7 linked regions of the Homo sapiens genome follow. The protein of the gene in region 2 interacts with the protein of the main gene of each other region in a pairwise test. Each region holds a gene or a part of one and is shown on either strand. Other genes may lie near its edges.

Region 1 (4,276 bases), about 47 Mb from region 2:
TAGTCACACCTTTGGTGCAGGGAATCAGGCTTTAGAGCCTGTTGACTCACCTGTTATCAGCTGATAAGCCTCTTGATCAGAATATCAAGTAAGAGACAGAATGGCTAAAAGAGAAACCTACCTGCTACTTGCTTTGTGGCAGTTTTCTCTGTTTACTTATCGATAGAGAAGATTAGGATCCCAGAGGGTAGGACCATGCAGGTGCAGGGGAAGGTGAGTTTACCACCATGAATCTCCGTGGTCATTACTAGACATAGGGGGTTTCTGGCAATGAGCAGTGGAGCCAATTTCCTCCCACTTACTGGCACCTGCTCCCATGACAGTTGCCAGTGGGACCAAGACTGTTGATCGTTGTTTGTAGAATTCTCTTCCCAGCAAAGAAGCAAAGTTAAAATCAGAAGTTTCTTTAGGAGAAGAGAATCAGAATCAAGTATATGGAGATCAATGGGATAGAACTAGAATAGGTGGACACTGTCATTCATACTTCAGACAGATATCTGGTGAGAAGGCTGCTAGGGCCTCTGCTCCTCAGATATTGCAGGAGGCACTTTAACAAGTTCTACATTATCTAACTCTCCTTTTTCAAAATTTCTCATTGATTGCCGATTCTTCTGGCATGAAAAATTGCTTTATGATACATACACACCTTAGAGTGAATATGCTGGCAGCTCCACTGATGTTAGCTGTTGTAGGAGAGGGAAATCTTCCCAAGGTGACTGGAGAGAGTTCTCTCCCAGGACTGCTGGAGGAGATGGGAATGCTGTCATCTTGAGAGTTACATTTATAAATAATCTACCAGGCCAGCTTATTCCCTAAGAAGATTTGGAGAATGTTTTCTTCCACATTCTTAGCATCCATTTCGGAGGATGATAGTTTATGGTTGAGTCTCCAAATTTGGAGGATACATTCTGTAAGAGTATACAGATCCTTGTACCTTGATGGAAGCCAGGACTTTACCTGTTTTTCCAGAATAAGGTGCCTCAAAACAATGTGCTGTGATGGAAAAGTAATGATTTTGAGGCAATTTTGGATTTGACTCCCAGCTCTGCCTCCTTTCCCTTGGTGTGTGTCCTTAGGCAAGTTACCTCACGTGAGTCTCCATTTCTTCAACCATAAAATGGGTGATAATTTTATTACTTACATTGTAGGGGTTTTTTCCCCATGGATTACATTTTTGAATGTCTGAAAATTCCTTACTAGCTTTCACTAAAAAGTAGCAACTGCCTATGAAAACTAGGGCTGGACAGAACTCTGTTTTGTTTACAGTTTCCTCTGAGCCCTTTGCCTACAGCCCTATAGGCAGATTCCCTCAGTATCTCCTTCAAAGAGAAAAAAAAAAAGTGTTAAGCATTTCTCCTGTTTTTTTTCCATTCCCAAATTTTAATTTTGCCTGGATGTTATTAACTGGTCTCACTGAGGGTAGGAATGACACCTCCTTTGAATGTACCCCACAAGCCCCTTCTAGTTAAAACTTGGCAAGGTCTCCATCTGCATTTCTAGCTGGCTTCTGACTTGCTCCCTTGGGTCTAGGTAACAGGAGGAGCCTCATTAGGGTTTTGTTTCTCCTTTTTAAAAAATTCCTTCCTGGAAAACTACCCACCAGGATGCTAAAGGTGGCTATCTCCAAGAGTTGGAATAACAGGTTATTGTTTTTCATTTCCTGTTTATGGTTTTCTATACATCCTGAAATTTTTATATTGAACAGTTATTGCTTATATAACTAGGGAAAAAAAATCAGCAATTTCCCAAAAAAGAAAAATTATGCCCTTTACCTCTTCTCTGACACCACACTGTGGAATGCGATGTCTTTGCAGCCATAAGACTTGGCATGAGAGGTCCCCTCACATCTGCAAGGGGCTTCAGCAGCACTCTGGTAATGGCTTCGAACCTGGAGGGGTGGAAACTCTCCAAAAACAATAAGACTTTAAAGGTTAGCATGTCTAGACACTGATGAAACCATCTTCCATAAGTTAGAACCACTTGATTTCAAGTAACAGAACCCCAACCTGAATTAGTTCAAACAGGTAGGGATTTAAAAATAATAATAATAACAATGGTGCTGGGATAGCACCTGAAACCTAAGGAAGGAATGTATGTGGACCATAGGAAAAGCTGGAGTCAGGAGCTCAAACACTGTCAGGGCTCTCTACCTCACTGTTGGGTTTCATCTGCTTGCCATTATACAGCAGCTCACCACCTGAAGGAAACCACGGACTCCCAAGGACAGCATCTTACACTTTCAGCCCCTGGAGAGAGACTGGCCTGATGCTCTCTGTGTCCAGCACAAACATTCTGTATAAGGGTCTCATCTGCCCAGTTTGACTCAGATGCCCATGCTGGATTAATTTGCCATGGTCAAGGGCACCAGGTGTAAAGTCTGGGCCTGAGAGATCAAGGTCAATATTACTACTCAAAGTAGGGCCTGTGTACCAAGCTGGCCCACAAACTATGTGTTACCCACCTGAAGAGTTCTGGTACCGAAATCAAGAATAAATATTTCTAAACATTTATAACAATTTGACATGCCTGTGACACTCAAGCAGGTGATTTTGTATTTTGTCAGGATGTCAATTTGTGACAGATTAGAAATTTAAATTTTTAAGTAGTTTGAAAAGCACTGATGTAAGACACAGCAACTCCTTCAGAAATCACGGACTTAAGAGGAAAAAAGGGGATATACTGGAGGGATAAAACAATTGGTGTCTAGCACATAAGCATCTCCACACAGTTTTGCAGTTCAGCTCCACCAGACCAACCACACTAGGGGCCTTGCCTTCTGGAACACATGAAGGACTAATTTGTCTTCCTTGTTAAATTAATTATACTTGTAATAGACATGCTTAGTGACTGTCATTCGCCACTTTGGCATAAGCTCCATGACAACAGAGACCATGTCTGACCTGTTGTTAACTACTGTCATCCCATGGCCAGTCAGGAGGGCTCAGTAAACAATTGTTGCTATGAGTCACTGCAATTTAAGGATGCACTAGAAACAACTTTGGATATATCTGGAGGTGAAGGCACTGCAGAAGAGTCCCTGTAGGGCCTATAGCTATGACTGATTCCTAGAAAGGAAACTGCTGATAAACTGTAGTCTAGATGAAAGGCCTAATATTGTTATATTGTTTTATATACATCTGAAACCTACAGCTCACCATAATCTTAGTAGTTCCTTCTGGAAAGGGACAAAATTGAGTATCCTTGGTATATCACTTAGCAACCTTGACTTCATCATATGCAATAAATGAATTCCGGGTTTCCTAAAGTGGACACAACTATGTGAAACTTTTAGCGCATATGGAAACACAAGAGAAGAAAAATATTTAGGTTAGAAGTCACAGCTATAAGCTCTATCAGTAATTTGAACTCTTACCTTAGGCAAACTATTTTCCCCTTTCCAACCCCCAGATTATCAAGCTTTAAAAATGAGGAAGCTGAAATAGATACAATCCAAGGGCCCCCCCAAGTTCCAACCATCCATAATTCTCTGATTCTGAAGACATCTGAGTGCATGTCCTTCATCAGTCAGAGAATTGTAAGCAATGTATTTTGTATTTCCCACAATTCCACATCCTTTGACAATGGCAAGGTTCACAGTTTATGGACTTTGCTGTCTCTCAGAGGTTTGGTGCAGGTTAGTTGTGGTTGCTTTGTTTTATTAAACCACAGCCTAATCAAGTGTGCTGAGTTGGTCTTATTTGTCTGCTTGTGTCTTGCCCCTTGTCCCACAGCCATGCTGCAGGCAGTGCGAGCCCTGATGATCGTAGGCATCGTCCTGGGTGCCATTGGCCTCCTGGTATCCATCTTTGCCCTGAAATGCATCCGCATTGGCAGCATGGAGGACTCTGCCAAAGCCAACATGACACTGACCTCCGGGATCATGTTCATTGTCTCAGGTAAACACAGAGCCTGGAGTTCCCACTTCTGCGAATGTCAAAGCAAAATTATTCTGGTAGAGAAAACATGACTCCTCCCTACTGCTGAATGTGGTTCAGAACTTTTCATACTGAGATTCATGATCTGAGTGTGGAGGTCCAATTGTGTATCATGAGTACTAAGGTCCTTCTTAGCTGCCACTCCAACCCCAATATAAGAGGTTCTTAGCTGGGTGCAGTGGTTCACATCTATAATGTCAGCACTTTGAGAGTCCAAGACAGGAGGATCACTTGAGTCCGGGAGTTCAAGACCAGCCTAGGCAGCATTGTGACACCCTATGTCGATTAAAAGAAAATTTTTTTATTAAAAAAAAAAAACTTAGTTAGCTTTTGAATCTTAA
Region 2 (4,276 bases):
TGTGACAATAATAGCATAAAGGGGCAAGTAATGGAGGCTACAGAGGAGCAAATTTTTTGTATATTATTAAAATTCAGTCAGTATTAATCTGAACTACATTGTCATAAATTAAGATGTTAATTGTAATCACCAAGTTAACCACCATTAAGAAAATAACTAAAAATATATATAGTAAAAGAAACAGCAAGAAAGTTACAAGGGTATACTTTTACATTTAACACAAATGAAAGCAGTAATGGAGGAATTGAACAAAAAAACCAAAAAGCATAGAAAACAAATAGCAAAATGGCAGATGTTCTTCCTTATCAGTAATTACATTAAATATAAGTGTATTAAGTTCTCTAATTAAAAGACAGAGATTGGCAGAATAAAGAATATTTAATTATGGGTTAAATATTATAGTATAAAAATAGAGTATAAACTAAATACAAAAAAAGCCCAAATGTGGTTTTTTTTGTTGTTGTTTGTTTTGAGATGGAGACCCGCTCTGTCACCAGGCTGGAGTGCAGTGGCACGATCTCAGCTTACTGCAACCTCCACCTTCCAGGTTCAAGTGATTCTCCTGCCTCAGCCTCCCGAGTAGCTGGGATTACAGGCGCCTGCCAGCATGCCCAGCTAATTTTTGTATTTTTAGTAGAGACGGGGTTTCATCATGTTGGCCAGGATGGTCTCGATCTCCTGACTTTGTGATCTGCCTGCCTCGGCCTCCCAAAGTGCTGGGATTACAGGCATGAGCCACCATGCCCAGCCAATGTACTTTTTTTTAAAGGACATTTTTCAAAGGAAAAAGAATCTGTAAGAAAAAATTACATACAAAAAAAGACTAGAATGAAATAGAATGTTAATAGTGGTTATTTCTGAACTGTGAGTTTATGATGATTTTAGTTTACATCTGTATACTTTCTTATGTTCTCTAGTTTAGTAGAATGAATATTATTTTCATCATTAGAAAAATATATTAATTACAAAAATGCCACCATTATATATACTGTGATACACAGTGGTATCACAGACCTCATCTGACATGTCTAACAGCCTAAATTAAACCTATTTCCAGAAATTTCCCCATATTTACTAGTTTTGTGCTATTTTCCAATAGAAATTTGTCTTATTAGGTACTGATAATTATAAGGGACCATGAAACAGAAATCTTTGAGTTATCAAAGAAGTATTTAAATGTATACTTAGAAGTGACAGCCAACATATTTAATACTCATACTGCATGAGCACTGCATCAGTGAAACCTGATATGGGTCATAGTACTGGAGGTAGAGTCTCGGGGCTCTCTATTGACTCAGGAGTTCCCCTGTAGCTGATGGATCAGAGAGAGGCCCTAGGGCTAAGGTTAAGGGAAACAAGATCATAGAGAGGCCCTAGGGCTAAGGTTAAGGGAAACAAGGAGTTCCCCTGTAGCTGATGGATCAGAGAGAGGCCCTAGGGCTAAGGTTAAGGGAAACAAGATCATAGAGAGGCCCTAGGGCTAAGGTTAAGGGAAACAAGGAGTTCCCCTGTAGTTGATGGATCATAGAGAGGCCCTAGGGCTAAGGTTAAGGGAAACAAGGGAAACTAGGGCTCAGAGTAGCAGGTGTTTACTTACCAGAATGGAAGTGAAGTATTTGAACATTTTAACAATTAGTACCACTGTACTGGCACGTAACAGCTGAAGTCGTTAACCAGTAAGCTAACCATTCAAAATTATCACCTCTGGGCCGGGTGCAGTGGCTCATGCCTGTAATCCCAGCACTTTGGGAAGCCAAGGTGGGTGGTCACCTGAGGTCAGGAGTTTGAGACCAGCCTGGCCAACATGGTGAAACCCCGTCTCTACTAAAAATACAAAAATTTGCTGGGCATGGTAGCATGCCTGTAGTCCCAGCTTCTTGGGAGGCTGAGGAAGGAGAATTGCTTGAACTCGGGAGGTGGAGGTTGCAGTGAGCCGAGATCACACCACTGCACTCCAGCCTGGAAGACAGAGTGAGACTCCATCTCAAAAAAACAAATAAATAAAATAATCACCGCTGATACTTATGACTACATTTAGAGTTTGCCCTAAAGAAAAGCCCCACACACCAGCCACTATATAGAGCCTTGGTTGTTACCTCTGCGTGGGCAATCCTATAGTGACAGCCCAGGGCCAGCTCTAGTCCCCCTCCGAAAGCCATGCCTTGGATTGCTGCCACCACGGGCTTCTCATTTCTCTGTATTTCATCTACTACATGTCCCAGTGTAAGGCCAAATGTCCTAGGAGCACTGAAGCCACGAATATCAGCACCTAAGGGCACAAAGACAAGGAGAAAACAGAGTTGAGAAATACATGGGCATTGTTATATAACAGTAAGTTACCTGATACTCTTTAAAAAATTAATTTGTTTTATTTATTTCTTAATTTTTTTTAGAGTTCCTGATGACTAAAGTCTCAGACCTCTTTGGGCCCTTACACTTCATCCTTGGCTGAAAACAAGTATATTGGAGAATGTAGAATGCTATGAGAGAAAATCCTTGAATCTTTACCAGGAATTCTGTAATTTTCTAAAATCTATCTTTCCATATAATAAGTAGTAAGTCTATATTTAAAAAAATTAAAAATCTCAGAAAAGGGGAATAGGGACTCTCCTCCAAAGATCATTATTCTGAGATTGAGTCAGCCCCTCTCATTTTTGTATGTGTGATACTGTTAATCAAGTCTATTCACAGCAACTTAGCTCCATATCTTTGTTAAGGGCATGAGTCATCACAATATAAAATATCAGGGTAACATGTATACATATTTATGAGTTATATGTTAATCAAGCAGCTTAGAATTATGTTTTTGTAATAGATTTTTATCTTCAATAAAAATAATATTTATTGCTTTTCCTGATTATAAAAATAACATGTATTATGGAAAATTTGAAAACCACGCAAAATTAAAAAGAACATGAAGATCACCCTAAATATCACTATATAGCCATAATTTAATATTTTGAGGAGTTCTTAGTTTTTTTCCACATGTGTGAGCGAGCATTACAACCTGAGCTCTGCCTTCTGTCAGATCAGTAGCGGCATTAGATTCTCACAGGAGCGTGAACCCTATTGTGAACTGCACAAGTGAGGGATCTAGGTTGCGCTCTCCTTATGAGAATCTAATGCCTGATGATCTGAGGTGGAACAGTTTCATCCCAAAACAATCCCTGCCCCCCCACCCTCCCAGGCCTGCACCCCCACCCACTACCCCTGTCCATGGAAAAACTGTCTTCCATGAAACCAGTCCCTGGTACCAAAAAGGTTGAGGACAGCTGATTTAGAGCATACCATAAAATCATTTTTATATTTTCCTGTTTTCATATAACATTATACATAGTAAGCTTTTTCCTACAGCATTATCTATTCTTTGAAAACACTAAGCTTGGTACAAGTTTTAAAAATTAATTATTTTATATCTAGCCTATTCATCTTTTTTTCCCTTTTTGCTACCTGTTCCTCATCTAGCATCAATCCAGGAGTTAAGCTTTTTTCTCACCAATTCATTATATTTCACTCTCTAGTCCAGTGTTTTGTTTCGTGTTTTCAATTCCTTTTGGTTCTAGAGAAACAAGATCAATTTCAATCCAAGTCTCAAGCCTATCATTCCTGTAGCTTTAGATTGAGATAGTTTTTTAGATAATAACAGAAATGAACAATTATTGGATAAATGCATCAAGCACTGTGCTAAGCAGTTTCATATACTGTGTCATTTAATTTTCATAACACCTAAGTTAAGCAGCATAACAATTCCCATTTTACAGGTAAGGAAGTTAATGCTTTGAGACAAGTGACTACTTCAGACATATGACTAATAACTGGTAGAATAGGGATTTAAACTTAGGCAATTTGACTACAAACCCCACATTCTTAAAAGCTATACTATATTCTTCTACTTACAGCATAAGGTTAGTATGATTATTATCCCAGTTTCTGAAAAACCAAAGCACAAACAGTGTAGTGATTTCACTTTTTAATTATTTCCAGCACATCAAAATCTAATTAATATTGGGATATTGATTTTTATACCCAGCAAAACTGCTAAATTTTCTTATTAATTCTAACAATTTTTTAATAGATTATTTTGATTTTTCTACAAACATTATTGTATCTTCTGAATAATGAAGTTTTGTTTCTTCTTTTTCATTCCTTATATCTTTTGTTTCTTTTACTAGCTTTACTGGTTTATCAAGAACCTTGAATACAATGTCAAAAGAAATAGTGAGAGCAGTCAGCTTTGTCTTGTTCCTTTCTCATAAGGAAAGCTTTCAATTCGCCA
Region 3 (4,276 bases), on a different chromosome or scaffold from region 2:
ATAAGCTATAATGATAGACGTAGTGTTGAGTTAGGATTCGTGTTTGGTTTAACACAGGAGTCAGTGTTAGGATGACGTTCAACCTCACAGTTAATGTTGGGACTGGGAGGACACACAGGCATTGGGGTTGGGGTGAGAACTGGCTGCTGGCTGAAGATGGCAGAAGGATGAAGTCATTGCCACCTTCCCATTTTCATAATCCCATGTCCACTGTGCAAAACCAGGAGTCTCTCCTTAGTTGGCCATGTGCACTCAGAAGACACACTTGCGATAGTAGCCAATGCAATATGAATCTGCACACGCCCCATTCACCCCAGGCAGTGAAGAGCTGACTTCTGGATTAGCAAATTTGGGGATTTTCAGTTCTCCTGCCCCTTACAGGGGACTAGGAACGGACACTAGATGAAAAGATGCCTCCACCACAGCCCACACACACCCCCACTCTGCCAGCCAGGACTGAAGCTCACTTGGTGTTGTCAGAGTCAATCGTGTGAAAGAGATCCTCCAGTTCTTTCTCATTAAGGACGCCATCTGCAAAGAAGAGCTGGAATTCCTCCAAGGACAGCTTCCCATCATCTGCAAGGAAGGAAGCAGAGAAAGGAGCTGGTGTCTGCAGAGATAAGGCTGGTGGGGCTAGTGCATGCACGGCCCCCAAATCCAGTCAATGGCCTGACTGACAGAACAACTGCAGCTCAGATAATCCCTACCCTCCCAGCTAATCCCCAAACTAAAAGACAAATTCCATTTTAGATAATCCCTACCCACCCAGCTAATTCCCACACTAACCAGTAAACTCCAGTACACAGAGAATCATGCCTCATCCAGCTAATTCCCAGACCAATGCCTGTTTACAGATAATCCTCAAACTAACAATAATGCAATAGCTAGCTTTCTTGGGCTCACCATGCACTCAACATTTTCCATGCGTTCAACAAATATAGAGTATCTGCCCCCTGCCAGTGAATTTTCTCTCAATTTACATGGCCACCTGGAGGCAGGTGCTATTTAAGATAACCCACTGTGAGCAACTTGTCCCATGTCACACCATCGGTATGAAGTGGATCCAAAAACCAGCAGCTGGATGAGCCACCACTCCATAGCTTCCAAACGCCAAGTGGTCTCTGCATGCTCCCAACCCCAATCCCAGCCCCTAAGCCCTGACTCTCTCAGCACTGTTCTTAGAGTACAGAAGAACCCTTTCTTCTCCGCCCCATCTATGTGGCAAACTTCAGGTCCTTCCCTGAGGCAGCATGAGATGGCTGCCAATGGCCGGCATGAGGTTCTCAGTTACCTCCTCTCCCAGGCCACAGATGCAGCCATCTAGATGCCAAGCCATGCAGGAAGGAGGTGCCAGGCCTGGAGGTGCCAACGCTCTGGCCAGAGGCTGTGCTTCTGAGGTGGAGCTCCACAGAGGGGCCTCCACAGCTCCTCTGTGGAGGGGCTCTGTGGAGGGATGGGTGGGACACATGCCACCAGTCCCACCCATCGCCTCACCTTTTCCCTTCACTTGCAGTTGCTCTGGGGACACTTTTGGCCCTACCAGGAAGGTCTTGTGGGTTTGGATCAGATTGGGCCACCAGGGGAGGTGGCTTAAGAACATCAGGGACTCTGGGAGGCGGTCCCTAAGCTTCCACCCTCAGCTCCTTCCACCTGAACAGACCTGCTGAGCAAATGCCAGCAAGCTCATCCCCCACCTGCCCTGCAGCCACCTCCCCCCTCCTCAAGGATCTGTTCCTCCTTAAGAGAAACTATGTGAGTGGCATGGAGGTCAGAGACAAGAGGGAGCCCATGACAGTTCCTGGCCCCCAGCCTCTCTGCATAAACCCCTGGCATTACTTCCAGAGGATCTGCATTCAAAGCTGGGTGCTTGGGACAAGGGCCCTGAGAGTCCACATGGCACCTTCCTATGGATTAGAAAAAGACTCTCCTTTCTCTGCCGAGAGGATGAGACCAGTGTCAGTGCACATGTGTTGAAAGCGGATTGCAGCCTGGATTTGAAACCCTCCATTTCCTCGGGTGGGTGCCCTTGTGCAGCGCACAACCTGCCTAACCCGACATGGCAGACGTACTTGGGTTGAGAATGAGTCATTCTTAAACTTTAAAGGCTCCAGTGCTTCTGTCTGTGCTCCCAGCAGCTCTGCTGGAGCTCAACACAGGGTGAGAGCATAAGCTCAGGAGAGGGGGGGTCCTCAGATCTTGCCAAGGTTTCATGCCACCACTTTTCTCTTTAACCCCATAGAGCATAAAGTATCAGAGACCGGTAAAGAATATGAACGTGTGGGCACGGGGGGCTAGGGCCAATATCCCAAGATGCCCCCATCGCAGCTCAGATTTCAAGGTTACAGTGGGAAGAATTTCTGTCTTTCAAAGGAAAGGCCAAAAAAACCCCAATCCAACCACACATGCACAAACCAAAGACCCAAAACCTAACAACTAAAAGTCCGCAAAGTCAGCCACGAGATAAGTGAAATCGAAGTTGTTGCTTTCTGTGTTCTGTGACAGAGGATGCCTTCCGAGTGTCTTCGGCAAGCCTGAAGATAAAACCCAGGAATCCCAGTGTGGAGTCACACCACACGTGGAGTACCTTCCACGGACTCACTCCTTTAGTCTTCTTAACACTCACGACACAGGTAGTACTACCACTTCCATGTTAGAGAGGGGTAAACTGAGGCACAGAGCCCTTAGGGTACTTGCCTAGGTCCTACAGCTGAAGCTTGAACCCAGGCCATCTGGCTCCCAAGTCCAGGCTCTCAACCTAATCCAGGGGTAGGATCTTGTGGCGACATCGCCACCTACCCAGCAGGGGGTGGGTGCTGGCTCAGGCACCCCCACTTTGGGTGAGGGGCAGTCACCATGGGCATGACAGGGGTTGTGAGCCCCAATCCCAGCCTCCCTCTGGCTGGCTCATCTCCCCACGTGCCTGTCCAGGTACCTTGGGCCCCCTCTGCACACAGGGAGAGCAGGCAGCCAGAGACCAGCAAGGTGCCCCCTCGGCACACAGGGAGAGCAGGCAGACAGAGGCCAGCAAGGTGCCCCCTCACTAAGCTTTCGGCTGACATTTATCCTGAACGCCTGATCACGGCCCTAATGAATTCACTAATGAGGAAAAAACATGCCCTACGTAGGCCCCCAGTCCAATTAGACAGGCCAAGCGGGCCCGCGCTGGCACTTTTGCCAGAGACCCCAAGCGGGCCGTTTGCAGGTGTCTTTGCTAATTAGCACAAACTCACTCTCTGTCTCCATGACCTTTCAAATGCCAAGAGCCTGTCAGCCTGTCAGCGTCCATGTCCCTGAAGGGAAATGCTGTCTGCCACTCAGCCCTCTGCCACCCCCTGAGTTTATGTCCCAGGCTGCCAGTCAGGCCCCTCATGCTAACCTTCCCATAGGGACTGGGCATCCGGTATCCAGCTCAGCCAAACAAGTCTCTGTCACAGGAGCCACCCTGACAGGGCAGCCCTGAGCCTTTGTTCCTGTAATCTCTAAGTCCTAAGGGCAGCCTGGGGGGTCCTTTGAGTTTGCACCCCATCTCCCGCTCCCCTGAGGCATCCCATCCATCCTTCCTGTGGACACGTGAGGCAGGGCTAGCGTCAGTGTTGAGCAGTCCTGTGTGTGCTTGTGGGCCTATCGGCCTCCACATCTGCACCCCCTGCACACCTGTTCTCATCCCTGCACACCTGTTCCCATCCCCGCACCCACACCTCCCTGCACACCTGCTCTCATCCCTGCACACCTGTTCCCATCCCCGCACCCACGCCTCCCTGCACACCGGTTCACATTCCCGCACCAACACCTCCCTGCACACCTGTTCCCATCCCCGCACCAACACCTCCCTGCACACCTGTTCCCATCCCTGCACCCACACCTCCCTGCACACCTGCTCTCATCCCTGCACACCTCCCTGCACACCTGCTCTCATCCCTGCACACCTGTTCTCATCCCTGCACCCACACCTCCCTGCACACCTGCTCTCATCCCTGCACACCTCCCTGCACACCTGCTCTCATCCCTGCACACCGGTTCACATTCCCGCACCCACACCTCCCTGCACACCTGTTCCCATCCCTGCACCCACACCTCCCTGCACACCTGTTCCCATCCCCGCACCCACGCCTCCCTGCACACCTGCTCTCATCCCTGCACCCACACCTCCCTGCACACCTGCTCTCATTCTTGGATCCACACCTCCTTGACACCTATTCTCACCCCTACACTCATTCCTCTTTCCCCAGCCATTCTATTCCCACACCACTCCCCTATCTATACCCACACCAAGTCC
Region 4 (4,276 bases), on a different chromosome or scaffold from region 2:
CCATGCCTGGCTAATTTTTGTATTTTTAGTACAGACAGGGTTTCACCATGTTGGTCAGGCTGGTCTCGAACTCCCAACCTCAGGTGATCTGCCCGCCTCGGCCTCCCAAAGTGCTGAGTGTGAGCCACCACGGTTTAGATGCCATCCCTGTACCACCACCACCCCCTAACCGTGTTTCAAGTTGGTTGACCATGGACAAATGATTGGTAATTGACATTGTATAGAAAAGCAAACTTCTGATTTATTTGTTATTAGTTCACCACACTAAAAACTTAATTAGCCATCGGAGTTGCAATTACATGACTCCAAATTTAAGTTTCCTTTGAATATAGCCACATTAAACCAATTAAAAATCTGAAGTACATATTGAATGCCTTTAAAAATGAGAAAATGGACCTAATTGTTACACCCGGTTAGAAAAATACAGTATATTTGCCTTTCTGAACCGTACAGTAGAAACCTACAGTGGTTGCTTTATTAAGTGCTACCTCACCCTTAGAGGTATTAATGCTTCACAGGATTCTTGGCCCAGCTTTAAAAATGAATGATTCATTTTGATTCAGTAGGTATTTAGTAAGGACTAAGCATGAGCTACATACTTTTGTTCTCTAATTCTTTTAATGGAGGAATAATAATCACAAACATTTTTACATAAAAACAATTTAAAAAATATTGGGGCAGTAGATATATGGCCAGATAAGATTTTATTATTTTTCACTGAAAAGATGTATAAAATAAACTGTTTTGATATTCTAAACACTAGTTAAGTACATATGGTTTGAAGGAAATAATGAGAGGATGATTATTCTCTTATATTCTAATATCTATGTGGTCTGGAATAGATGTTCTTAACTTTTTGGGGGTCCTATACCCCCGATGATTTGAAAACATATACTTTCTGTTTTATAATTCACTTTAAAGTCCATATGAAAATGGTTTCGTAGAGCTTACAGAATAAATACTCCTTGGCGTAATGTCATCTTCCAACATTTCTAATGTTGGAAGTGTCCAATGTCTAATGTCTTGCGGTGTCCCAGTGCTTATTCCGAGTGTATTCAGGCTAATGGGAAAACAAACATCATGCAAACAACTCTAACATGATATATTGTACTGTAATCGTATTTTCAATAAAATTGTATACAACTACATAAAGAGGAGATTAATTATTACTAATGAGGTAGGTTTTTCTAAGGAATTGTTATTTGAGCTGAACCTTTAAGAATGAGGTAATGAAGTAGCATCAAGACTTTTGGCACAGCAACAAGGAACCTTTCCCTCCCCTGCCATTTGCTGAGTATTCTGATTGTACCTTTGATAGCAATTTCTGCCCTACTTTCTAGCTGTTTATGCATTTTTTTTCCTTATCATCTCTTGGAGGATTGAATTTTTCCAAGGCTTGGGTACATCTCATTCAATTTCATATGTGCATATATGTCCTATGTCTTGTACATATAAGCCACCTATTAAATGTTTGATGGGTTAAATCCAATTGAACATGAGTCCTTTCCTCCATAGCTTACGTGTTATTGTAGCTAAACGACTTCTGAATTGCCTACTGGAATAACTAGGAAGTAGACTAAGCCTTGAAAGGAAGGGCTTGGTTAAGTTGGTATCATATAAAATTTCAAATCCCTAATTTTTCTATATAATCATTAAAAGTAGAGGTAGGAAAAATGACATCACATTGTGGCGTCTAGAAGGAAAAACTTTGTGTCATGATAATATTTAGGCATTATCCCTTTACATAAAGTGCCTCAAGCAGTGATCCTGAATGAAACACTGCCTATGAGTCTAAATGGGTATCATAATCTCAAGGAAACCAAATCTATAGATTGGTTTTTTTCTACCCTATTGATAAAAAAAATTATATGTTTAGACATATGATCTGACAGAATGGCTTTTAGTAATGTTATTTGCTTTGAGTTTTTAAAACTGACTTCAGAAGAAATGCTATTGAGGCACAATAGCGATTTAAAAAGGGAATTGAGTGGAACATTATACCTATTATATCAAACTATTTTTATTGCTTTGGAAGAGAACTATTAAGGCAAAGGCAGTCATCATATTAAATATCTCAAAACTATTTTTCCCAATAGATTTTAATCATTTTATTGTTTTCTACCACTTTGTATGTCTTTATCATTTTTTAAGTATCATCAAATTTACTAATATACCCTGAAGAAAAACCTCCTGTACATTGGGGAAAAAGTAATCCTATTTCCTAATAGGAAAAGTGTAAGAAAATCTGAATGTAAAGATATGAAGCTACCCTGATAATTATTTTTAGTTTAACGAATAGAAATGCAAACAGGTTACTTTCAGTTGACCTTTTACCAATTCTCACTTAATATTTTTATACCCCAGAAAGTTCTATTTTATTATAAAGAAACTGGCTACAGCCTTTCACTATTATATGAAAGCTTAAAACGAACTCAGTTAAATCACACACTCTCACAAACAGCTTGGAACCTCGTTAATGCTACTGACAAAGACTAATTTTGTATTTAATATTGATCATTTATAACCCCTTGCTTGTTTTCCAGGGGATGTACGTATTTTTGCATGCAGTGAAAGGAACACCTTTCGAAACTCCTGACCAGGGTAAAGCAAGGCTCCTAACTCATTGGGAACAACTGGACTATGGAGTACAGTTTACATCTTCACGGAAGTTTTTCACAATTTCTCCAATAATTCTGTAAGTGGCAGAAATTTTTAGGTATGAGGAGGATTGGATAAGAGGAAGATATCTTTTCATCAGATTGAATTGGAATTAGAAACATATTTTGTTGCAAACTTCTATCAATAAGTAGCACCTCGGATAGAACATAAAATATAGACAAAATTTTTAACAAGTTGATAATAAACTAATTTTCACTTCAGTCAGTACATATACGGAGACAATATTACATGCTAATCAGTGCACCTAGACATTTAGGATATACAGGTCAAATGTATTCCAGCTCCCGTCCTTAGGTTTCATATAAGGACACAAAATACATAATCATATTCTATATTGCACTGTCAGATTAATCTCCTTAAGCAATGATTTAGATAATGAGAAGAATTTCACTGGCCACCTATCCTATTAAGATATTCAGACTCCTTGGGAAAGAGTATGGTTTCGAAAAAAGTAGGTCAGGCTTTCATTATAGGATAGACCTGGGTGGAGTCCTATATATATCACTCAGCCAGCTTGGTTTGCTCATATATAAAATTCTAGCTAGTGATACCTAATTCAATCCTAATGCTGTAAGAAATAAATGAGATAATAATCTACCTGGATAGCATGTAACCTGTATCTGGTATCTAATTTCTTTCTCCTATCTGATGTTCTGGGCCTTCCAGAAAATAGTTCTTACCTCCTTTTCCCTTGATGTAAATATTTTATCCCCACCCAACTCCTACCTGGCCTTCTAAGCAGCATTTCTTGAATATTTCATGTGTAGTCCTATTTCTGTCTTTGTTCAAATCAGTTCAAATCATATCTCCTACCTGAAATGCCTCCTCCTTTTTTCCCCAGCTTTACTGAGGTATAATTGACAAATAAAAAAATGTATATATGTTTTATTTTGTCTCTCCAAAGAATTTATAAGTGCATGGATTGCTTTGAATCCCACAGTAAGTACAGTGGCCTACACATAATAGAGGTATTGCTCATATATCTTAATACTCTGTACCATCTAGCCTATACATAATAATGTCCATGATAGAGTCAGTGCAGCCTGGCATAGCACAAAAGACTTCTTGGAGGTGTTGGAAATCCTTATGTTAGAACTTAAGAGAGACTAGGTTTTAGATATTTAAGTAAGGGAAGGCATTTTTAAAGTGAAAGGAATAAACTGATCATAAAATAATGGGGTTCTTTTTCCTTAATTTATAGCCCTTTGAGGAAATTTTGAATTGATTTAGTCCCATATAATATTAACCTCAAAGAAAAGTGTCAGTGTAGTCTGATAAAAATAAATGTAAGCTACATGGGAAGCTGAGGCAGGAAGATGGTTTGAGCCTAGGAGTTAAGAGGCTGCAGTGAGCTGTAGTCACACTGCTGTACTCCAGTCTGGGCAACAGAGCAAGACCCGATTTATTAAATAAATAAGTGAATGAATGCATGCATGCATGTAATAACAAAAATATTGGTTATTCAGATGGCCCTGAATTTGGATTTTGGCTCAACCCCTTTGAAGCTCTGTGACTTTTGGCCGTTTTCTTCAAAAGCTCAGTTTTCTCATCTGTAAAACATTGAGGATTGCATTATAATACATGTAAAATGCCTGAC
Region 5 (4,276 bases), on a different chromosome or scaffold from region 2:
CTGCCTATTAAGATTTTTATAACTAAGAGATAAAAAATAATTATTTTTAGATTTTGGAACCTTATTTATATATTAGATATTCCACATTGTGCTAATAAAATTGTAAGCTGATTGCATAGAAACGAAAATCCATATTGAACATTTCATATTACTATTCTCTTTCCCAGATGTTATTTGTTCTTGATCTTTATGAGAATTCACTGAGAAAGGCTATGACAGACTGTATTTTGCAAAGATCGTTGCCACAATGACTGCATCCCACACACCCTTATTATAAAATTGTTTTCACACTCCTTCCATTGAAAGTGCCTCTCTCTCTTTAATCTGAGTCAGACTTTGAGATTCTCACCACCGATAAGTGGGTCTGACTTTTGAGGCAGAATCATTCAAATGGCGTTTTCTTCTCTCTGTGTTCTTAAGATGTTCACTTGCAACCTAGCCCCAATGTTGTGAGGAAGCCAAGCACCCCCTTAAATAGCCCCAGTGCAGGTGTCCCAACTGAGGCATAGATGAAAACCGAGATGGACTGCCAGATATGAGTGAAAGAGGCTGCAGCCCCCAGCCTTCCATGCATTGCCAGCCTTTGAGCCCTTGCAACTGAAGGCACAAGTGAGAGATACAATGTCCATGCCAAGCCATGCTCGCGATTCTTGAACAGAAGACAGGGTGGTTGCTGTTGATATGTTTTAATGATAATTACTTGGAAAAGTTTGTTTCAAGATAATAGATAACTGGAACATAACAGCACTACAGCTATTTTCACAAAGGGGCAACAGCCAACATCACATAGCTAGAAGACATCAGACCAAAGATGAATATCCAGGCCAATTAAGCAAAAGCCTGATGCCCTTAATGGTCCATGTATAAGACTACTTTTTCTGTAATAAATATCTCACAAAATTGTGATTTTTCCACTATTAATATTAACATATTTATTCATTTTTACTGACCAAGTCCAAGATGCTGTCAAACTTAAATAATACACTGGATATTTTAACCTTGTACATTAAGAATTCATATACAATTAAAGTGAATCTACCAGAGAAGATAAAAACATAGTCATGATAAAAGTCAACTTAAAAGAATGGAAAACACTAACAAGTTATAAACTACATTTTAAAATTCAACATATGAATATATATCAAACTAATTTCTTTAAATCCTAAAACTTAATGACTAAACATGGATAAAATACATTATCAAATGACCAATCTATCTGTATTAACAATTTTAAGTGATTTGAAACTTAGACTTGGTTAAGGGAGACAATGATTAGCACTTACTCTCTTTCCTTCCATAAGATTTTTTGGAATTCATCCAAATGCACCTGCAAAGCTGAAATTTCAGTTACTTCATTTTCCAAAGGCAGATTTATTGCTTTCAGTCTCAGCCCAGTTTTCGTTTCACCGTTTCCAGAACCACCATTGTTGAATAAATCAACACCATCTAGATTGGGCTTCATCTCCTCACTTAATTTTAGAGAATCAATAACCACACCTTGTTCCTGAAGACAAAACAAAACAAAACATATTTAAACCTCCTGGAGAAAAATCATGATGACAAAACATTTTCATAAAGAAATAAATGTTACGATACCACAACCAATTCATATTTTTATTTCATTATCATTCCCTGAAAGTGTTGTGTGGCCACACTTACTTGCATTCTTCTTTGAGCTTGTTTTTTTCTATGTTCTACTTTCTCATAAAAAAAATACATTTCTCAAAAGTTCTGCTTTAACTCTTGTTTGTTCTCTTTTTCTAATCGCAGCTAAAAATAACTCTGCACAAACTTGAACAGCTGTAAATAATTTTTAATGAGTTGATGAATTCCTCTTTCAAGTTTCTTTTGTCATAAGACACTTACAGTTTCAAAGCAATCATTTTTTAACATTTTTGAAAGACAAGATAGAATTTTCAGGAAGCTGTTGAATATTTTAAAAAGCTTGCTTATTGCTTCATTTTAGTTCCCCTTATTGCTTTAATTCATGAGTCACATCTAAATAGAATTTAATGGGGCGCTTTAATAAACATGGACATCAGTACTAGAGCAACAACTGCACGACACTCTTAGAGCGTAACTCAAAAACTTCACAGGACTCATGCTATTGGTATTTGCCTACAATTTAAATTTGCCCTGGTTTATAAGTTTGAAATGAAAGACAATTTCAAATAAAATCTCAATGAATAGTCAAGTTCCAGTAAAATCTCGATGATACTTCACTTTTATTTTATTTTTTAAGTAGTATGTGGATTCCAGGTTACCTAGGATGATTCATTCCTTAATTCTCTCAAGAATGAGCATTGCAATCATCTGTACTATAATATTTTGACAAGCAATAAAATAAGATGTGTTGTTCACGGAAAGTATTGAAGTCAGACGAAGGATACATATACATATCTTTCTTGTTAGGTCTCCTAACCCCCAGTACCTCAGAATGTGACTGTTGGTGGAGACAGGGCCTTTAGGGAGGTGATTTAGTTAAATTAGGGTCATTAGGGTGGGCCTAATGATGGTGCCCTTACAAGAAGACCTTAAGACACAGACATGTGTACAGAGAAAAGACCATGTGAAGACACAGGGAGAAAACGGCTTTCTATAAGCCAAGGAGAGAGGCCTCAGAAGAAACCAACCCTGCTAGCATGTTGATCTTGTACTTCTAGCTTCTACAATTGTAAGAAAATGAATTTCTGTTGCTTAAACCACTGTGATTATGGTACTTTGTTATGGTAGCCCTGGCAGGCTAGTATAATCACCATTGCATTTGTCACTTCCTTCTTCCTCCCCATCACTATATATGACCTTCAGAAATTCACATCATCTCTGGATTTTTTTCTTACCTTATTATTTGTGTCCTCCTTTGTAGAAAATTGTCTTTTTACCAAATACTCTCTGATAGACTCATGCATTTGTGAACTCAATTGAAATTGGTCTGTATGTTCACAGGATTCTTCTACGAAGCCAGGAAGCTTCAGATCCTGGGTAACTTTAGCTTCTAATGCCTCCTTCTGAGGTGGCAAACTCTGTTTCTTTTTCAGTGTACTCAATTCTTTCATCGCCATCTCTAGTTTTATTCTGAGTTGTCTTCCTTCCTCCCTGGCACTGTTCCTTTCAGCTCGAACTTTACTCCATTTTTCTCTCCAGTTGGCAGTGCAGTCCGACCACCACCGCATGGTCTTTTCCATCTGAGCAGCTCTGGCCTTGACTTCTTCAAGCTCCCGCAGGCGAAGTTCTTCACAAATATCCCATTTGTTGGTGTTATATGAGTGAGCACAGAAATTGTGAGCAGCATGAGATTGTAGCCCATGAAGTGGGAAGCAGGTATTACAGGTATCCCTGGGGGGTGAGGCAGGTGCCACCATGTCGCCGCGTGACTTAATTGATGATTGTTGCATCTGGAAGATCTGTGTTTCCTCAATTAATCGATGTATGGAATCTAAATTCATATTTATTTTTAAGACCTGAGAAAAGATAGAGACCATAATTTCACGCTGAAATTTCCCTTGTAAATACAGGAACAAGACCTACACTTTTTTTTTTTTTTTTTTTGAAAATTGATGAAAACAATGCTTTTTTTTTATTTTTGACAGAGTCTTGCTCTGTCACCAGGCTGGAGTGCAGTAGCATGATCTCGGCTCACTGCAACCTCTGCCTCCAGGGTTCAAGCGATTCCCTTGCCTCAGTCTACTGAGTAGCTCGGACTACAGGCATGCGCAACCACGCCCAGATAATTTTTTGTATTTTAGTAGAGATGGGGTTTCACCATGTTGGCCAGGATGGTCTCGATCTCCTGACCTCGTGATCCACCCGCCTCAGCCTCCCAAAGTGCTGGGATTACAGGCGTGAGCCACCATGCCTGGCCGTGCTTTTTCAATATTGCATATTTTTCCAGTGTAACTAAAAATACAGAGGAATTTAAACACTTGTAACTATCCACTAAGAAACAGAAAATGCTCGTATTCAATTTTGCCAAATACAAATAAAAATATAAAGATGCAATTGAAGATAGCATATGACATAAATAATTCATTTTGACAATTCCAGTTCTACTTAGGTCATATCTATTGTAACATTGTCCACTACGAAATACAAATTGTAATATTTATTGTCCACTAACTACATAATGGTTTTCTTTATCCCTGCGAAGCCTCAATTTGTTCAGGCAGAATGCACAACCTATTGATCTATAGGTTAACAAGCCTCTATCCCAGTCCCAGAGGTTGAATCATAGTCTACATTTTCCATGATGCCCTTCATCTGTTGACTATTGACTAGT
Region 6 (4,276 bases), on a different chromosome or scaffold from region 2:
TTTTGAATGGAGCCAGAAGAAAGAAGCAAGAGGTGTGAAAGCAAGGAAATGATCATTCTTTCTCAGATCCTAGAGAGAAATATAAGCAGCTAGGTACAGGGCTAAAGGTATGTTAAGGATCAGGTGAGGATGGATATGAGGATAGCTTCTGGGTTTTTGTCTTAATGTAGCAGGGATTTTGGTAAATACTTAGACTACAGAGGTATTAACAAAGGAGAAAAACATCTTATGACCTTGAAGGAAGCTTCAGATTTCTTCTTGATTAGGTCAAGGATGTGGTATATGGTCTTTTTGGTTTCTGTGTTACGGTCAGCTGAGTTTAAAGAGTGGGAGTATTCTAAGGTAAGGAGTCTAGTAGCAATCAAAACAAAGTTACTGGGGAAGATGGGAGAATAGAGACTAGACAAAGATGTTAGAATTTGATTCTAAAGCTCTCCTCAGGTAATAAAAATAGATAAATCTTAATGAGAAGGAACCAAGGGCAGTGATTTGGAGAAGTCAGTACAAATAAAGGTATTCATTTGAAGAAATATTTGAGTGCCTTTTATGTGCCAGGCACTATTAAATAAAACTATAGCTATTTTCCTTATTTGACTTTTTTTCTGAAGATAAAATCTTATGAGTGTGATTAATGGTTCTACAAGCATGGGTAGTTCTAGATATGATACCTACATTTCCCTAAAAGATTGTACTGATTTTTAATGATAACAGCAATGTATAAGGATGTTGTTTTCACCACGATTTTACCAGCAAAAATATTTGGCTAGTTGAACACACATAAAATTATTGTTCTCTTTGCTTATAATCTGATAAGTGTTTCCATACCTTGGAACCTGGATCTGTTGGAACATGAAGGAATTCAGGACCCTTATACATGTTACCCCATATGGCTTCTTTAAAGGATATGGATTTTTGAGGATCCTAGAAATCAAAATTCTCTAATTTTATTCAGCTCAAAAAAAAATTTTATTCAGTGCTGCTGTCCTTATTTTCTGAATAATATTCAGATTCAGACCACACTGAGCCATAATTCCAATTCCCACTTGACTAACATTTATGTAGTATTGTGCTAGGCACTACATGTTATCTTAATTCTAATAATTTGGCATTTTTCCATATGAGAAAAATAAGATTTAGAAAGATTAGATTACTTGCCCAAAATCACTTAACCAGTAAGTGGTAGAGACAGGATTTGAATGCAGATCCTCTAAGGCCAGTGTTTATTCTCATACTGCATGATCCCTCAGTATCACTACTAAAATTTACTGGAGGATAATGGAAAGTGGAAAATCTGAACTGGAACTTGGGACAATCAAGCACTGACTTACCTGTGTTCATAATGAAGCATTTAGCAGAGATGTTGTTTGTTGTTTTGTTTTGTTTTTACTGGGGAGGCTATAGTACATAAACAGAGCGAAAGATCTTGGTATGGTTAAACCCACATTTTCAAGGCCTTCTGTGTTCTCCCTGATGATCAGGTACCTACTACCCCAAAATCTGTGATGGTAACAAAGAAGGAGGAAGGCAGCTGTAGAAAAGCAACGGCCTTTGGGTATACCCAGTAAGATTTATGTGATTGTAGAAAGAGCAGGCAAATGGCTTGGCCTTCAGAGAATCCCACAAAGTAAAGTAACCTTTTAAAATAGTAACTTAAAGTCTGACATAAGATTCTTAACAGGATATTCATCACAAGATAAGATATTCAAAGCATAGCGTGTAAGACATTCAAAGCATATCAGCAAAAAAGGAGAGATTCCTTCATTTTTATTGAAGTATGGTATACTCACAAAACAAATTTAATATCAGGAATATAAAACAAGAGATACGATGTTCCAATTCTGGCTTTAGTCGGATATTATAAAATTTAATCCCAATTTATAGATAAGGCAATTCAAGGCTCGAGATTACACACCAAATAAGTGGACTCTAGGCTGGGTGTGGTGGCTTCTGTAATCCCAACACTTTGGGAAGCCAAGGCAGAAGGATCGCCTTAGCTCAGGAGTTTGGGACCGGCTTGGGTAACATAGTGAGATGCTGTCTCTACAAAAAAATAAAAAATAGCCAGACATGGTGGTATATACACATGTGGTCATAGCTACTCAGGAGGCTGAGGCCAGAGGATCGCATAAGCCCAGGAGTTCAAGGCTGTGAGCTGTTATCGAGCCACTGCACTCCAACCTGGGCTACAGAGCAAGACTCTGTCTCAAAAAAAAAAAAAAAGGAGGGGGGAGCCTCTAGAACATAGGCCTTTAATCTGTGTGGTTGTTTTGCAATTTATATGTATAATTTTTAAATAATATGTTGGCCGGGCACAGTGGTTTGTATCTATAATCTCAACACTTTGGGAGGCTGAGACAGGAGGATTGCTTGAGGCCAGGAGTTTGAGACTAACACAGGCAACATAGCAAGACCCCATCTCTACTAAACAAAATAATAATAATTTAATATGGTGGGTTTTTTTGTTTTTTTTGTTTTTTTGAGACGGAGTCTTGCTCTGTCTCCCAGGCTGGAGTGCAGTGGCGCTAGTGAGCTCATGCAATTCTCCTGCCTCAGCCTCCCAAGTAGCTGGGATTACTAGCGCTTGCCTGCTTCAAAAGAAATGATTTCCAGCACCCCATTTTTTCTTTTCCAGCCTCAAAATTCATATCTCCTTTTTTTCCCCCATGTCCACATGTCCTTCATTCCTATACTTCATAGCTTTAATTCCTGTTCTCTTGATACAAACCTTCATGTTTGTTGCTTGATGGCATCATAATTATCATAACTTTTTGGCTTAATAACAGTAGCAGTTATATCAACAAATAATAAAATGTTCATACTTTTGAGCCAATAATTCCACATATAGAACTTCATTCTGAGAAAATACTTTAAATAAGAAAAATAGTTAAAGGCACAAAATGTTAATAGCACTGATATCTATACTGTCTAAAACTTGAAACCTTCTAAATATTCAACAATATAATAATGCCTAAGCAAATTATTGCCTATCTACTCAGTGGGCTGTAAGACATTCATTTTTCACAATAGCGTCTTTAAGAATACATTGAAAGATGTTGTAAGAATGTTTTTGCAAAAATGAAAAGGAGAAACATCAGAAGAAAAAGTAGAAAAACTAATGTGATTGGTGTCTATTTCTGAAGCATTTATATTTTCTATATAATAATAATTTACATTTACTGACCACTTACTTGTGTCAGGAACAATACTCAAGCAACATTATAGAAGCAACAATTTGTAGTTATTGAAAACTGGTGTTCTAGAATCAAATCTGAGCTTCATCACTTACTAATATGTGGTCTTGAAAAGGAAATGGAGGATAACTATGTCTACATTAAATTATTAAATCTATATAAAGTATTTGGCACATACAAAACCTACAATAAGAATGTTTTTGTTATCAGACATTTTATAAATATGTCTCATTTAATCTTCACATCCTCACAGTAACCTCATTAGATAGTGTTAACGTTCATTTTACATGAAAGAAAATTGAAACTTCAAATGTTTAAATACTCTAGGTTAAATAACTTGCCGAATCACTTAACTAATAAGCAGTAGAGTTTTTATTCAGAGCCCAAGCTATGGTTTCCACTTATGACTCTGAGAGATGAGGTTGCTGCAGACTAATGCTTTTGCTAAGAACAGGAAAGATGAGAATTAAAAAGAAAAGTGAAGGCATCAGAGACCTGCTGAGGCATCCAGGACTTAAGAAACCACAACCATAGAACCAAAGGAGCTTCAGAGAAGTGGGCTGATGTTCCATGCTTCTCTTTTTTCCTAGGAATTTGCTAATTCTTAGAGCATGACAAGATGCTGTGAAACTTAGCAGAGGGTTTCTTCTAAAAGCAGAGAAGCTGTTAGTTTTATGGGGCGGAGCAGACAAAACTTGGATTTTAGAGATCTCCAGGTAGCTAGTTCTTGGGTCAAGATCCCTAGAGAAGGACAGTACCCAGAAACTTTTTTAAAACTTGTTTTCCCCTCACAGTGTTTGCTAGGCAGAGTCTAGAACTGTAAGAAAGTTAATTTGTATTGCTTTAAGCCAATAGCTTTGGATAACTTGTGACAGCAACAATATGAAACTATTACAGAGACATGAGGAAATGATGAAGAAGTCTAACATACATATGACTGGAGGAGAGAAAGTTAGAAGCAGTAATATTTTAAGAGACAGTGATTGAGAATTTTCTAAAACCGATGACAAATATCAAGCCATGGATTTGAAAAGTGCAAGAAACGACAAGCAGAATAAATACAAGGAGTACCACACTTTCATTCT
Region 7 (4,276 bases), on a different chromosome or scaffold from region 2:
TGACTATGAAGGAAGATTTGCAAAAGTCAGTAGTGAACTGGCTGTTGGTTAGAGCAACAGAAATAGCTCCAAAAATATAGGTTGAATGAAAATGTAAGAATCAGATAGGATTTACAGCATAGTATCATTTCTGTAAATTAGCAACAAATACTCCAAATAATTCTATTGTGTATTTTTCAAGAGTACACCCCCCTCCCCCACATCACACACACACAAAGTTGACATATGCACGTGTGGAGGTGGACTGGAAGGACAAATAATAAATAAACACATCACAGTGGTCACCTGGGCTGTGGGCAATGGCCCAAAATGTGTGATTAATCCAGCTCCCTGTACTTGAGGTTGCCTGACAAGACCCACTGAAGGAAATCAACATAAAGGGCACACAAACAATGAAAAGATGTGCACGTGCACATGCGTATGCATCAATTTTGACAGCTTCTGGATGGACAGTCAAAACCCACTCACTGTGGGTGCCACAGGAGGGCTCTGAAGAGGGAGGTTTTAAACTTTATCATTGTATGCTTTTTGCCATCTGCTTATGTTACTTTTTTTTTCCAAATAAACATTAGTTTAAAAATGAAAACAAAGAACTACTGGAACTGATACCATCTGAAGAAATGGGTTTTCTATAATCTGCTCTGGATACAGGCCTCTGAAAGATGAATATCTCCCAGGTGCCTGCTGACTACAGAAGTGTGCTTGCAGAGCCCTCCTCTAAGCCTAACCCACACCCAGGCACAGAATGGCTGGGGATGCTCTCTGTGCTTAGAACACAATGCCTGTGACAGGGTTTGCATTACTTTTAAAATGCACATATCAACTACCTAAAATGTTAACTGAATGATGAAAGTGACCACTGAAGTTGCATCTACTACTAATGAGGAGAAGCCAGTAGTTTTAAGATGTCATGGCCTGTAGCCCATTAAAAACATCAGTTTAACCCAGAAGCCCACGTTAAAAATAAGTGGTAAACTCTGAGACGCTTGGATAGGAATGTTAGAAGCGTGGAGCCTCCTGTGTCTAGGTCCTGCTGCTGCCCCTCACGGGGGTCCCAGCAGCACCTGTTTAGAACCTCAGTCCTTCAAAGAATACTGTGGAACACCTGAGTGGGAAATGGGGCCAAAATTCAAATGGTTGTGGAAAAGGGAGGTTGGCAAACAGTATGGATGAATCCTGTGTGCAGGGAGGTGGCCACAGGGAGCCCCCGCCCCTTACCGTGCAATCTTGTCACTGCAGGACATGGTGAGCAGCCGCTCCCCTTGCAGCACCCCGTCCCACGTTTGGATGCTCGCATTGGAGCGCACTGGAATCGTCCCCTCACCAGACTCTATTTTGGTCCGTAGCTGTCCTCTTGCTTTACGATTTGGGTGTCTATCTGCTGGTTCTAAGAGAGAAAAAGAGTTAAAACCCCACAGGTAGTAAACCATCTATTTGATTTATTGAAAAGCACATCTAACAATAGCTTATAAATTTAAAATACAGTCTGTGCATATAAATGCATATGTTTATGCCATACATACAAAATACACATACAAAATAAGTATGTGAAGCTGAGAGGCTGGGTATGGTGGCTCACACCTGTAATCTCAGCACTTTGGGAGGCTGAGGCAGGTGGATCGCTTGAGCCCAGGAGTTTAAGACCAGCCTGGGCAACATGGTGAAACCCCATCTCTATAAAAAATATAAAAATTAGCCAGGTATAGTGGTACATGCCTGTAGTCCCAGCTCCTTGGAAGGTTGAGGTGGAAGGATCGCTTAAGAGCCCAGGAGGTCGAGGCTGCAGTGAGCCATGATTGCACCACTGCACTCCAGCCTGGGTGTAAGAGCGAGACCCTGTCTCAAAAAAAAAAAAAAAAAATTATATGAAATTGAGTAGGAAGGACATAACACAAACAAAATTCACAAAAGTGGTCTCCAAGGGAGTTGGGGAAATGGGGTTTTCACTTTAACTGAAATGATTTATTTCTATCATTAAAAATGCACTGAAGCAAATAGGACAAAATGCTAACATTTGCTAATTCTGGGTGATGGATACTTGGGTGTTTGCCATGTTATTTTCCTCTATATTTTTAAAATTTCCAAAATAAATCTAGACAGATGCAGAAATAAACCCATGGAAAGTATGGTAAAACATCCATAGTGAGTATTTCTGGGTTACAGGAATACGGATGATTTTAATGTTCTTATATTTTAAAAATAGTTAGCAATTTTCCACAGTGAGTATGCCTGTTGCTTTTATAAACAAGGAAAGTAATGTAATAAAACGTTCTATTTGGAATAAACAATGCCTAAGGGCTTGGGAGAAGGGATGTAGATACAAAACACTAAAAAACAAAAGTGCTAACCTCAAATGTAAAGAAGGATGGAAAAAAATATGATCACAATAGTGGTTTCACTTTTCACTAGTGTTTATCTGCTTCTGAAATATCAGGCAAATAAATACTTTAATTACACATTTAGCAAATTAGAATTCCTCAGAAATATGGAGGATCACATACACCTCTGATTTAGAGATATTTATTACCCAAATTTAAATACTGATACAATTTTAATCCAATATTCTCACTCCATTCTAATTACTTGGTTAATTACAATCAGCATTTTTCATTCATTAAAGTTTTCTAATTAAGTTAATTGGAAAGAAAAAAATCCATGCTTTTATAGAGACTCTTATCAGATCCACATCCAAGTCTAAAAATAAAAAGAAAAAAAGGAAAAGGGATATTAACACAGGTTAGTTTTTATCTGTTAACATTTTCTTGAGAAACTGGCTTGTTGAAGAATCTCGTCTCATACCTTCCAGGATTGGCTCATGTGGTGAGAAGATTCTGGCATCTCCACAGGGAGAGGTGCTGATGTACAGATGAAACTGGACATTCTCCTTCAGCCTAAACCCCCCTCGCTCTGATTTCTGAAAGATGGATCTTTTTTGATCATCTTTGTTACTGAAAGGAAAAAAGTTGCAAAAGTAACATTTAAAGCTGTATATAGTTAAATTTTAGTCTATCATTTTCAGAGGCTAGTATTTTCCACAAGGGAAAGATAAGTTTGAACTGGAATATTTATTTTACATGTTTAGGGTAATTAATACAGTTCTTGTCACTCAATAATGGATATGTCATCAGGATGTGAGTAACCTTTCCTTCTTCCAATTTATGACTTCAGAACAGAAAGACCACATACAAAAAATGGCTTTGTAAAGAAAAGGAGTTTGGATACATGACTAGCTCTTTCTAGAAACGGTGACTAGAATAAAAATTACCATCTTTACCTGGCAGTTTGGGAACTTCTATTTATACAGCATACAACAAAATCACATGGTCTTAAACACAGACTTGAAATTTATGACCATGTTATGTTATTGTATGTATGTGTGCATATGTGTGTTGAGCATTGTGGAAGAATGGGATGCAGCCTTATTGTTACTAATTAAAGTTATGATTTTGAGAGATTTTCCATGATTACAGAAACAATGAAAGGTTTTGCAATGTTTTCTAATAGAGGAATATTTTTTAAAAAGAGCTTCCTGTCCTTATTTGTTTACTAAACTTACTTTAAGTAAAGCTCAAGTTGTGTATAAAGAAATCTGAGCAAGGATCTCCGAGATATTATTTCTGCATGGCAGTCATTTAATGCAAGGCCACGATCACTCATGTATTCACCATTAATACATTTTGTTCCTGTAGAAACACTTATCACCTTGGCATCTTTAACATCTGTGCCTGAAAAAAAAAAAAAGAGACACTATTTTCTGTAATTCACAGTAATGTTTGCCTAACTGTGCTCCTGAAGTCTGACTCTTATTCTCAGTGACTTAACTTTTCAGGGGCCAACAGACTTTTCAAGCTCATCTTCATGCATATTCTTACCACCTATTTTTTAAGTGGGCAAATGTATACACGCAAACAACCTCCTATTGAGGACTCACTTTGTGACATTTCTGGAAAGCCAACCATCGTCATTGCTTAGTGTCCAGACACTAAACTCAAGGAAGTCATTTCCTCTGGTATGCAATAGCATCTTTTCTTGAATGCCCACAACTAGAACACAGCTGGGCAACACTATGGAAAGGTGGACTAACTGGTCTGGTAATTAATCTTGACATCAAATATCAAAGTACTGAAGAGATTAGGAAGGAGGGGTTAACGGCACCCAGAGGAATAAGAAGGAAAACAGAATTAACTTGTGATGTTTTCATTAGTAAACTGTCACCATTAACCACACTCGGAGTGAAATCACAAGCAGTGGTGAACTCCCACAGACAGATCACTCC

The links.
Region 1: the proteins of EHHADH (region 2) and CLDN18 interact in binary tests that used the Homo sapiens proteins (3 or more experiments, as listed by UniProt).
Region 3: the proteins of EHHADH (region 2) and NECAB2 interact in binary tests that used the Homo sapiens proteins (3 or more experiments, as listed by UniProt).
Region 4: the proteins of EHHADH (region 2) and ORMDL1 interact in binary tests that used the Homo sapiens proteins (3 or more experiments, as listed by UniProt).
Region 5: the proteins of EHHADH (region 2) and CCDC102B interact in binary tests that used the Homo sapiens proteins (3 or more experiments, as listed by UniProt).
Region 6: the proteins of EHHADH (region 2) and HMG20A interact in binary tests that used the Homo sapiens proteins (3 or more experiments, as listed by UniProt).
Region 7: the proteins of EHHADH (region 2) and ADARB1 interact in binary tests that used the Homo sapiens proteins (3 or more experiments, as listed by UniProt).

The regions. Positions count from the first base shown.
Region 1 is NC_000003.12:138,019,927-138,024,202, forward strand, and holds part of CLDN18 (claudin-18), read left to right. Parts: intron 1-646; exon of another isoform or gene 647-3,731; coding exon 3,732-3,896; intron 3,897-4,276. UniProt on the Homo sapiens protein: Involved in alveolar fluid homeostasis via regulation of alveolar epithelial tight junction composition and therefore ion transport and solute permeability, potentially via downstream regulation of the actin cytoskeleton organization and beta-2-adrenergic signaling.
Region 2 is NC_000003.12:185,233,194-185,237,469, forward strand, and holds part of EHHADH (peroxisomal bifunctional enzyme), read right to left. Parts: intron 2,270-4,276; coding exon 2,097-2,269; intron 1-2,096. UniProt on the Homo sapiens protein: Peroxisomal trifunctional enzyme possessing 2-enoyl-CoA hydratase, 3-hydroxyacyl-CoA dehydrogenase, and delta 3, delta 2-enoyl-CoA isomerase activities. Catalyzes two of the four reactions of the long chain fatty acids peroxisomal beta-oxidation pathway.
Region 3 is NC_000016.10:83,974,744-83,979,019, reverse strand, and holds part of NECAB2 (N-terminal EF-hand calcium-binding protein 2), read right to left. Parts: intron 577-4,276; coding exon 468-576; intron 1-467. UniProt on the Homo sapiens protein: May act as a signaling scaffold protein that senses intracellular calcium.
Region 4 is NC_000002.12:189,773,984-189,778,259, reverse strand, and holds part of ORMDL1 (ORM1-like protein 1), read left to right. Parts: intron 1-2,543; coding exon 2,544-2,695; intron 2,696-4,145; coding exon of another isoform or gene 4,146-4,155; exon of another isoform or gene 4,156-4,276. UniProt on the Homo sapiens protein: Plays an essential role in the homeostatic regulation of sphingolipid de novo biosynthesis by modulating the activity of the serine palmitoyltransferase (SPT) in response to ceramide levels.
Region 5 is NC_000018.10:68,835,934-68,840,209, reverse strand, and holds part of CCDC102B (coiled-coil domain-containing protein 102B), read right to left. Parts: intron 3,462-4,276; coding exon of another isoform or gene 3,447-3,461; coding exon 2,841-3,446; intron 1,505-2,840; coding exon 1,284-1,504; intron 1-1,283. UniProt on the Homo sapiens protein: During interphase, forms fibers at the proximal ends of centrioles to maintain centrosome cohesion. During mitosis, dissociates from the centrosome following phosphorylation to allow centrosome separation. Contributes to CROCC/rootletin filament formation.
Region 6 is NC_000015.10:77,426,758-77,431,033, forward strand, and holds part of HMG20A (high mobility group protein 20A), read left to right. Parts: intron 1-4,276. UniProt on the Homo sapiens protein: Plays a role in neuronal differentiation as chromatin-associated protein. Acts as inhibitor of HMG20B. Overcomes the repressive effects of the neuronal silencer REST and induces the activation of neuronal-specific genes.
Region 7 is NC_000021.9:45,182,034-45,186,309, reverse strand, and holds part of ADARB1 (double-stranded RNA-specific editase 1), read right to left. Parts: intron 3,726-4,276; coding exon 3,557-3,725; intron 2,949-3,556; coding exon 2,800-2,948; intron 1,837-2,799; coding exon of another isoform or gene 1,717-1,836; intron 1,388-1,716; coding exon 1,219-1,387; intron 1-1,218. UniProt on the Homo sapiens protein: Catalyzes the hydrolytic deamination of adenosine to inosine in double-stranded RNA (dsRNA) referred to as A-to-I RNA editing.